3 linked regions of the Homo sapiens genome follow. The protein of the gene in region 1 purifies or fractionates together with the protein of each later gene. This does not show direct contact. Each region holds a gene or a part of one and is shown in the gene's direction. Other genes may lie near its edges. The genes, in order: PCDHB1, PLXNA2 and TMEM59L.

Region 1 (3,754 bases):
AATAAGCCAATGTTAAAACATTAACATATTTCAGGGATTCTCCCAACACTGCTAACTGTGCCTTGAAAGTCAAAAGTTTGCTTTAGAGAAGGGCATGGTGGCTCATACCTGTAGTCCCAGCTACTCAGGAGTCTGAAGGAGGAGGATTGCTCAAGCCCAGGAGTTCAGGGGTGCAGTAAGCTATGATTGCACTTCTGCACTCCAGCCTGGGCAAAAGAGTGAAACCTCATCTCAAAAAAAAAAAAAGTGTGCTTTAATGAGGCTTTAATTATATTCCTTATTTTATAAAAATGTGTGTAAATTCAGACTCACTAGAATACATCCTCTTGGTATTTTAAGGGTAGAGCATTATCTTTTAAAATACTTCTTAAATATACCAAATCATGTTTATTGATACAAACTTCATTCTTGGACTTAATGACTGATACCTAATGGCACCACCTGGCTGTTTACCTGTTGGCCAGGAATACACTAAAATTTAGTGCTGTTATTTTTTAGATGTTAGAGATGCTTAGGGCAGAACTGGTGTAACCTATGGCTGCCTTCAATGTTAAAATGTTAAAGAACAGATGAAGCAAATGCACTATATCAATGAATTGCTTTTATTTTTAATATTAAATATTTTACATACATTGAGTTATGATTCCGATTTAGAGTAAAGGTTTTCTTGCACAAAACATAGAATAAGTGTTCCAGTGTATTTGTGTTCCAATTGGTGAAGGCATGCTGAAATTTCTATTTCCTTTAAATGAAAAAGGAGATAGAATTTTTATTTATTTATTTATTTTTTGGAGACAAAGTCTTGCTCTGTCACCCAGGCTGGAGTACAGTGGCATGATCTCGGCTCACTGCAAACTCCGTCTCCTGGGTTCAAGTGATCTTCCTGCCTCAGCCTCCTGAGTAGCTGGGACTACAGGTATACATTACCACGCCCAGCTAAATTTTGTGTTTTTAGTAGAGACGGGGCTTCGCCATGTTGGCATTTCGCTATGTTGGCCAGGCTGGTCTCGAGCTCCTGATCTCAGGTGATCCACCCGCCTTGGCCTCCCAAAGTGCTAGGATTACAGCACCATGCCCAGCCTAGAATTAATTTTTATGGGTAAGCAATAATTAGTTAATAAAACATGCTTAAGTAAAAGCTACTGTATTAACTGTGTTTCATTACACTTAATGATGTGAACATAATCAATGGAAACTGGCTTAATGTCAAGGATAGGAAAAGAAAATGGTGTAGATTCATGATTTTAAGACTTTGATATTCAAATAGCAGTGAAATTCATGAATACATATATACACACATACACAATGGACAGAAGATGTAGATTTGTCAACTTTTTATTTTTTCACATTAAATGAGATAAAATCTACCACTTCACGCCACCATTATTCCATAAACGAAATGGCATTTTAATATAAAAATGGTTAAGATAGGCTGGGCATGGTGGCTCACACCTGTAATACCAGTACTTTGGGAGGCTGAGGCAGATGGATCACAAGGTCAAGAGATGGAGACCATCCTGGCCAACATGGTGAAACCATGTCTCTATTAAAAATACAAAAATTAGCTGGGTGTGGTGGTATGTGCCTGTAGTCCCAGCTACTTGGGAGGCTGAGGCAGGAGAATTGCTTGCACCCAGGAGGTGGAGGTTGCAGTGAGCTGAGATCATGCCACTGCACTCCAGCCTGGCGACAAAGCAAGACTCTGTCTCAAAAAAAAAAAAAAAAAAGAAAAAAAGAAAAAAGAAAAAAAAAGGTAAGATAACAATCTCATAAAAGAAACCATCCTTTAAATTTAAAAAATGTATCGATTTAATAAAAAATTATTTTGCCACCATTTTTCTTATTTTTGCCTTAGGTGAAAATTTTGTCACTCTAATTTTATTCAGACTTCAAGTTCCCAAGAAAATTCCAATCCTACCTGATAACTTAAAATAAGAATATATCAATTCACTGAATGTGAAGTAGGCCACTTGTTTTTGGAGAGAACTCTGTACACCAGCTGAGATTAAGTCCAGGTCTCTATCAGCAAATTAAGACAAAGAATGGAAATAATTAGGGCAATTACTCTCTCCAAAGTGTCAAGTGATATTATAACTATTTCTATGTATTCAAAGCTATAACCTAAGAACCTTGAAAAGTGTCTTGTACAAAAAGGCTTTTTATTAGGAAATAATTCTAGACTCATAAAATTGCAAAAATACTATAGATAGTTCCTGTATATCCTTCACCTAACTTCCCGGAATGCTAACATCTTATATAACCATAGTAGTTATCAAAATTAAGAAATTAACCTTGGTATAATTCTATGAAGTAAACTACAGATCTTATTCAAATTTAACAGTTTTCCCCCAATGTCCTTTTTCTATTCAAGGATCCAATCCAGGATCCTGCAAAGCATTTGTTATGGCTCCTTAGTCTCTACCACCTGTGACAGTTCCTTACTCTTACCTTGTCTATCATGACTTGAGATTTTTGAAGAGTACTAGCCAGTTATTTGTAGAATGCCCCTCAGTTTGGGATTCTTTGTTTTCTCATTATTAAACTGAGGTAATGCATTATTGGGAAAAATACTGCAGAAATGATATTGTATCCTTTTCAGTGCATCACGTCAGCAGGTATGTGATGCCAATGTCACACTACTGGTGATATTAATCTTTTTTCTTTTATTGTGGTAAAGAACTTATAAAATGTACCATGTTAGCCATTTTTAAGTATGTTAGCCATTTTTAAGTAATGTTAAGGTGATGTTAATTTTGATCGCTTGGTTAACATAATGTCTGCCACGTTTCTCTACTATAAAGTTACTTTTTTCTCTTTGTAATTAATAAACACTTGGGGGATATGCTTTGAAACTATGCAAATATGATGTTTCTGCTTAAACCAATTTTAGTATCCATTGCTAGATATTTCCTGTGGCAATTAATATTGTGGCATTCTAATGGTGATTTTCTATTTCTCTATTTCCTTTTACATTAATTAAAATTCTTCTGGAAGGAAAACTTGTTACTTTCCCCCCCACTTATTTAGTTAGTTATTTCTTTACATAAGGATACCTGGATATCTCCTCTATTATTTGGGTTACAAACTAATCCTATCATTTACTTTGTTGTTCAGCAAACTCTTTTATCTGAGATGAAGAGCAGATTTTTAAGACTGGAATTATCCATATAGAATACATTTTTATCAAAATTAGTATTTCTTTGTAACTCTACATGTTAGATTATTTTAAACAATCATAAAGTAACCCCATTAAGGTTCATGCATAAAGTTTTAACTTTAAATGAAAATTATACTAACATAATTTTAAATTAGTCATACATTTTAAAATAGATATAAACTGAAAATTTTAAAATTTGTTGTGCAGACATGTTTATATAGTTTAAGCTATATATACCTGAGATACTATTTAAAAATAGACTTATATGCTGAAATTAGACTTACAGATATACAAAAAATGGAATTGGTCTGTCTGATATTATGTAATTCTCCTAAAAATAAAGAATTTCTTTATCATGTTTGTGCATTTTTTGTTGTTTTCCATTTAGGGATGAATTTGTCTTATTCTTGGAAGCATAATTCATTCATATGATTATCCCATATAAATAGCTATTTTCTGTAGAGTTTAATATCTTCAAAGTATGTGACTAAGTGGACATTCATTCTTCAACCAAAAGTCTGACTTCATTTTCAAATATGTGTAACACTTTTAAAAAACATTATTAAAGTATTTGTTGTGTTTATATAACACTGAAAC
Region 2 (3,654 bases), on another chromosome or scaffold:
ATCGCTTGAACCAGGGAGGCGGAGGTCTCAATGAGCTGAGATCATACCACTGCACTCCAGCCTGGGCGACAGAGCAAGACTCTGTCTCAATAATAATAATAATAACAAAAACTAACATAAGTTAAGTGCTCACTGTGTGCCTGCAACCATGCTAAGAGGTTGGTCTCTATATTGTCTCATTTACTGTCATGACAACTTGAAAGGTACATACTGTAGTTATTCCCATTCTACCAGAAAGGGACATGAGACTTGACTTGCCTCAAATCCCAAATTTGTTCCCAGATTCTGTCTAACAACAACAAAAGCCACTCACTATTCAAACTGTGTCTTGGGAGGATACCAAGCAGGGAGGTGAGGTGGCTGATCTTAACCGCATACTAAGTCCTTCCATGTTATCTCTGCTACCAGAACCCCCTTCCTCCCCTCGCGGCTCCTCAAGGAGGAACCACTCTCCACCTGGAACCCAAGGAGATTTTCTTCCCAGCGACAGGGGCAGAGAATGGCCTCTTGCAATTCCCCATCCAGCTGGAGAATTTAAGGATTCTGTTATTTCCTTTCCACAGCTCCTCTTCAGGAATTCACGTCCTGCTACCGGCCTCAGGACATAGCTAAAAATAACCTCTGGTTTCCAAACTGAAAGCCCTGTCTGTTGGGAGGCTTTGCCGGTGTGCGCCTGGGGCCGGAAGGGCTGTGTCGGAGTAGCTGAGGTCAGCCTGAGTCTCATGCCGGTGTTGCCTTCCTCTTTCCAAGGAAGCCCAGGGCCTCATGAGTCACCCCGAACACCCTGGGGGAGTCGGGTTGGAGGAGGGAGTTAGGTGGGACCTACTGTGGCACCACGGTGGCTGCCAGGCCGAGGATGCAGAACTGAACAAGAGGAAGGGTCGTTCCTAAAGAAACTCTAGGGGATTCTCTAAGTGGTGTCTGTTCTAATTATAACCCAATCCAGCCAGAATGGGGAGTTGAGGGAGAAAGGCCTCTCCTAAGCTGCCTTGGAGCAAACTCTCCATCCTTCGGGTGTTTCCATCCCTGCCACCTTATGTGCCCAGAGTTCTGTCTGGACTTGCCTGAGAAGGTTGCTGGATGATCTTCCAGCTGAGAAAAGCTTTCTCTGCCGGACAGCTCGCTGCCTTCTCCTGGTGCCGCAGTCACTTCCCACTGTCCCTCTCCATAAGTCAGGACAGTACCATGATAGTGATGGAACAGGCCCTGCTCTCTGACCTCCAGGTCCTGCTCTCTGACCTCCAGGCTCTGCTCTCTGACTTCCTGCCCCTGGCCCAGACTGCCCCTGGCTACAGGCTGTCCTCAGGAGCCCCACCTTGCCCCTCTGGGCAGCTTCCTTGGAACAGGGAAGAATAAGCACCAAGGCTCTGGAAGTGGAGGAGCCTTAAAGCCTGGGAGTCAGGAGGCAGGGGGAAGAGTAAAGGAGTCAGGGCTAGAGACTGGGCTTCGAGCATGGCCCACTGAGGCCCGCTGGTGATTTCATGGATGCTGAAACAGTCAGGAGGCCCCAGCAGTGCCTGAAATGAGACTGAATCTCACCTCACCACCCTTTGCTGCTCCCCACATTCTCCCAAATCTGGTACCCCTGCCCCAGGTGGCTGAAGCTGGACTCAGCCAGCCAGTAACCCCTAGCAAGGAGACTGGTTCTCTGTGTGTCCTGGCTTCCCATGTGCTCTGCCTGCAGAGAGGCAGAGGTTGAAGCAATTTCCCGAGGACCTGGCTACCTGGCAGCAGCTGGGCGTCCACCTTGAGAAGGATGGGGGAATCTCAAGAGATCTGCCTGTCTCCCGAGGGCTTTTCCGGCTCCGGAATGGCACATGTGGGAATCCCAGTCTTGTTGGCTACAACATTTTTCCCTTTCCTAACAAGTTCTAACAGCTGTTCTAACAGCTAGTGATCAGGGGTTCTTCTTGCTGGAGAAGAAAGGGCTGAGGGCAGAGCAGGGCACTCTCACTCAGGGTGACCAGCTCCTTGCCTCTCTGTGGATAACAGAGCATGAGAAAGTGAAGAGATGCAGCGGAGTGAGGTGATGGAAGTCTAAAATAGGAAGGAATTTTGTGTGCAATATCAGACTCTGGGAGCAGTTGACCTGGAGAGCCTGGGGGAGGGCCTGCCTAACAAGCTTTCAAAAAACAGGAGCGACTTCCACTGGGCTGGGATAAGACGTGCCGGTAGGATAGGGAAGACTGGGTTTAGTCCTAATATCAAATTGACTGGCTGGGTGAACTTCAACAGCCTTTTAACCTCTCTGGGAGATGAAAACGATGGCTTAAGGGGCCAGAAATAGAGATGCTTTGTAAAATAAAATTTTAAAAAAAGCAAGTATTTTATAGCATAAAGGCTAGAGACCAAAATAGATAACAGGATTCCCTGAACATTCCTAAGAGGGAGAAAGTATGTTAAAAATAGAAAAACCAAAATGCAGAAGGAGGAGACTCACAGAGCTAAACCAGGATGGGGACCCTGGGTCAGGCCAGCCTCTTTGCTCCTCCCGGAAATTATTTTTGGTCTGACCACTCTGCCTTGTGTTTTGCAGAATCATGTGAGGGCCAACCGGGGAAGGTGGAGCAGATGAGCACACACAGGAGCCGTCTCCTCACCGCCGCCCCTCTCAGCATGGAACAGAGGCGGCCCTGGCCCCGGGCCCTGGAGGTGGACAGCCGCTCTGTGGTCCTGCTCTCAGTGGTCTGGGTGCTGCTGGCCCCCCCAGCAGCCGGCATGCCTCAGTTCAGCACCTTCCACTCTGAGAATCGTGACTGGACCTTCAACCACTTGACCGTCCACCAAGGGACGGGGGCCGTCTATGTGGGGGCCATCAACCGGGTCTATAAGCTGACAGGCAACCTGACCATCCAGGTGGCTCATAAGACAGGGCCAGAAGAGGACAACAAGTCTTGTTACCCGCCCCTCATCGTGCAGCCCTGCAGCGAAGTGCTCACCCTCACCAACAATGTCAACAAGCTGCTCATCATTGACTACTCTGAGAACCGCCTGCTGGCCTGTGGGAGCCTCTACCAGGGGGTCTGCAAGCTGCTGCGGCTGGATGACCTCTTCATCCTGGTGGAGCCATCCCACAAGAAGGAGCACTACCTGTCCAGTGTCAACAAGACGGGCACCATGTACGGGGTGATTGTGCGCTCTGAGGGTGAGGATGGCAAGCTCTTCATCGGCACGGCTGTGGATGGGAAGCAGGATTACTTCCCGACCCTGTCCAGCCGGAAGCTGCCCCGAGACCCTGAGTCCTCAGCCATGCTCGACTATGAGCTACACAGCGATTTTGTCTCCTCTCTCATCAAGATCCCTTCAGACACCCTGGCCCTGGTCTCCCACTTTGACATCTTCTACATCTACGGCTTTGCTAGTGGGGGCTTTGTCTACTTTCTCACTGTCCAGCCCGAGACCCCTGAGGGTGTGGCCATCAACTCCGCTGGAGACCTCTTCTACACCTCACGCATCGTGCGGCTCTGCAAGGATGACCCCAAGTTCCACTCATACGTGTCCCTGCCCTTCGGCTGCACCCGGGCCGGGGTGGAATACCGCCTCCTGCAGGCTGCTTACCTGGCCAAGCCTGGGGACTCACTGGCCCAGGCCTTCAATATCACCAGCCAGGACGATGTACTCTTTGCCATCTTCTCCAAAGGGCAGAAGCAGTAT
Region 3 (2,989 bases), on another chromosome or scaffold:
TATACATATATATACATATACGTGTGTGTGTGTGTGTGTGTGTGTGTGTATATATATATATATAATATATATATATATATTTTTTTTGAGATGGAGTCTTGCTCTGTCACCTGGGCTGGAGTGCAATGGCACCATCTCGGCTCACTGCAACCTCCACCTCCTGGGTTCAAGCAATTCTCCTGCCTCAGCCTCCGAAGTAGCTGGGACTATGGGCGCGGGCCACCACACCCAGCTAATTTTTGTATTTTTAGTAGAGACGGTGTTTCACCATGTTGGCCAGGCTGGTCTTGAACTCCTGACCTCAGGTGATCCATCCGCCTCTGCCTCCCAAAGTGCTGGGATTACAGGCGTGACCCACCGCGCCCGGCCTATATATATATTTTTGAGACAGGATCTCACTCTTTCACCCAGGATGGAGTGCAGTGGCATGATCACAGCTCACTGCAGCCTCGGCCTCCCTGGCTCAAGCAATCCTCCTGCCTCAGCCTCCTGAGTAGCTGGGACCACAGTCACGTGCCACCATGCCCCGCTAATTTTTGTATTTTTTGTAGAGATGGGGACTATGTTGCCCAGGCTGGTCTTGAACTCCTGGGCTCAAGTGATCCACCTGCCTTGCCCTCCCAGAATACCGGGATTACAGGCATGAGCCACCTCACCCAGCCAGGACCTCACACTTGCTGCATGACTTGGGCCAGTTTCTTCACTGCCCTTTGAATTGGTGGGAAGAAAATCCACTCTTAGTTGGGGCGACATGAAGTCAGAGGTGGCCACACTTCTGTGGTGTTGGCCTCACCTCTATCATGCCCAGGTGTGTTGGTGACACCTCTGTGGTGCCCAGAGCCTGGGCAACATAGTGAAACCTTGTCACTACAAATCATTTAAAAATTAGCTAGATGTGGCTGGGCATGGTGGCCCATGCCTGTAATCCCAGCACTTTGGGAGGCCGAGGTGGGCGGATCACGAGGTCAAGAGATTGAGACCATCCTGGCTAACAAGGTGAAACCCCATCTCTACTAAAAATACAAAAAATTAGCTGGGCGTGGTGGCAGGTGCCTGTAGTCCCAGCTACTCGGGAGGCTGAGGCAGGAGAATGGCGTGAACCCAGGAGGAGGAGCTTGCAGTGAGCCGAGATCGCGCCACTGCACTCCAGCCTGGGTGACAGAGCGAGACTCCATCTCAAAAAAAAAAAAAAGAAAAAAAAAATTAGCTAGACGTGGAGGTGCATGTTTATGATCCCAGCTACTTAGGAAGCTGAGGTGGGAGGATCACTTGAGCCTGAGAGTTCGAAGCTGCAGTGAGCTGTGATGGCACCACTATACTCCAGCCTGGACAACAGAGAAGACCCCATCACACACACACACACACACACACACACACACACACACACACACACACAAAAGTCCAGGTGTGGTGGCTCACACCTGTAATTCCAGCACTTTGGGAGGCTGAGGTGGGCAGATCACTTCAGGAGTTCGAGACCAGCCTAGCCAACATAGTGAAACCCCATATCTACTAATAATACAAAAATTAGCTGGGCGTGGTGGCGTGCACCTGTAGTCCCAGCTACTTGGGAGGCTGAGAAAGGAGAATCGCTTGAACCTAGGAGGCGGAGGTTGCAGTGAGCTGAGATGGCGCCACTGCACTCCAGCCTGGGTGACAGAGAGAGACTCTCTCAAAAAAAGAAAAAAAATAAAACAATCAGAGGTGGGAAGGAGACAGTCAGGGTTGGGGGCTCGGCCTCTCCCCGTCCCTCCACTTCCCTCCTCCCCTCTCTTCCTGCAGCCTCTGACCCTGGAGCAGCACAAGGGCTTCATGATGGAGCCCGATTGGCCCCTGTACCCGCCGCCGTCCCACGCCTGTGAGGACAGCCTACCACCCTACAAGCTGAAGCTGGACCTGACCAAGCTGTAGGCCTCCACTGGCCCCATCACTGCCAACTGCAGGGGGCCCCTCGGGCCTCACTTGCCCTGAGCCCAGGAGTCCAAGGGCAGGGTGGGTCCAGCCTTGAGCCCCTCCACCCCCAAATCCTTCCTCTCCTCCCAGTCCCACCCCTTGCCCCACGGAGTCCTGGGGACGCAGTGCCCCAGCTGGGAAGAGGGCGGGATCGGGCACTGGTTCCTCCTTGTCCCCGCTTTCTTGGGGGCTTGCTACTTTTTGTCTTCTATTGTGTGGCTTTCTGAGTATTTGAACCCCAGTCCTGTGTCACCTTCCTTTTTCCTTCTATGTCCCCTCTCTGCGGGGGGGGCGCTGAGGCTGAGGGGGAGCTGCGTCTTGCTAGGGCTTCCCCCTTCTCCCCATCCCGGTCTCCAGAGACCCAGCTTCTGAGAGACAGGGTGTGGGCATCTCCATGCCCCTATAAAGCGTGCCTGGGGCTTGTCTGGGGCTGGGGAGGAATAAACCATGTATATAAAAGAGTTTCAGGCTGAGCCTGCTTCTGTTCGGTTGTCTGTCTGCCCTTGGGGTGTGGCCCACGCATGGCTATGACCCCTGCCGAGCAGGATCTTTCTGACATGGGAAAGCCCTGGAAACCCAGGTGGCACCAGGCACTGAAAGTAGCTGCCTCTCAGAAGGACACTCCCTCTGGTCTAACCCAGGTCACACTCCCAGCTACAGATGTCCCTGGAAAACTGACTCGAGGCCAGGCGCAGCAGCTCATGCCTGTAATCCCAGCACTTTAGGAGACTGAGGCAGGAGATTCACTGGAGCCCAGAAGTTCCAGACCGGCCTGGGGCAACATAGCAAGGCCCCATCTCTACAAAATACACACACACACACACACACACACACACACACACATATATATATATAATTAACTGGGTGTGGTGGCTTGAGCCTGTGGTCCCAGCTACTCGGGAGGCTGAGGTGGGAGGATTGCTTGAGGCGGGGAGGTGGAGGCTGCAGTGAGCTATGATTGCACCACTGAACTCCAGCCTGGGTGACAGAGCATGACTCTGTCTCAAAAAAAAAAAAAAAAAAAAGTGGCTTGTGC

Evidence for each region.
Region 2: the proteins of PCDHB1 (region 1) and PLXNA2 purify together in Homo sapiens (affinity purification with mass spectrometry; one large-scale study listed by BioGRID and IntAct). This does not show direct contact.
Region 3: the proteins of PCDHB1 (region 1) and TMEM59L purify together in Homo sapiens (affinity purification with mass spectrometry; one large-scale study listed by BioGRID and IntAct). This does not show direct contact.

What each region holds. Positions count from the first base shown.
Region 1 is NC_000005.10:141,055,832-141,059,585, forward strand, and holds the end of PCDHB1 (protocadherin beta-1 precursor), read left to right. Parts: 3' UTR 1-3,515; downstream 3,516-3,754. UniProt on the Homo sapiens protein: Potential calcium-dependent cell-adhesion protein. May be involved in the establishment and maintenance of specific neuronal connections in the brain.
Region 2 is NC_000001.11:208,216,885-208,220,538, reverse strand, and holds part of PLXNA2 (plexin-A2 precursor), read left to right. Parts: intron 1-2,536; 5' UTR 2,537-2,571; coding exon of another isoform or gene 2,572-2,616; coding exon 2,617-3,654. UniProt on the Homo sapiens protein: Coreceptor for SEMA3A and SEMA6A. Necessary for signaling by SEMA6A and class 3 semaphorins and subsequent remodeling of the cytoskeleton. Plays a role in axon guidance, invasive growth and cell migration.
Region 3 is NC_000019.10:18,618,626-18,621,614, forward strand, and holds the end of TMEM59L (transmembrane protein 59-like precursor), read left to right. Parts: intron 1-1,782; coding exon 1,783-1,911; 3' UTR 1,912-2,414; downstream 2,415-2,989. UniProt on the Homo sapiens protein: Modulates the O-glycosylation and complex N-glycosylation steps occurring during the Golgi maturation of APP. Inhibits APP transport to the cell surface and further shedding.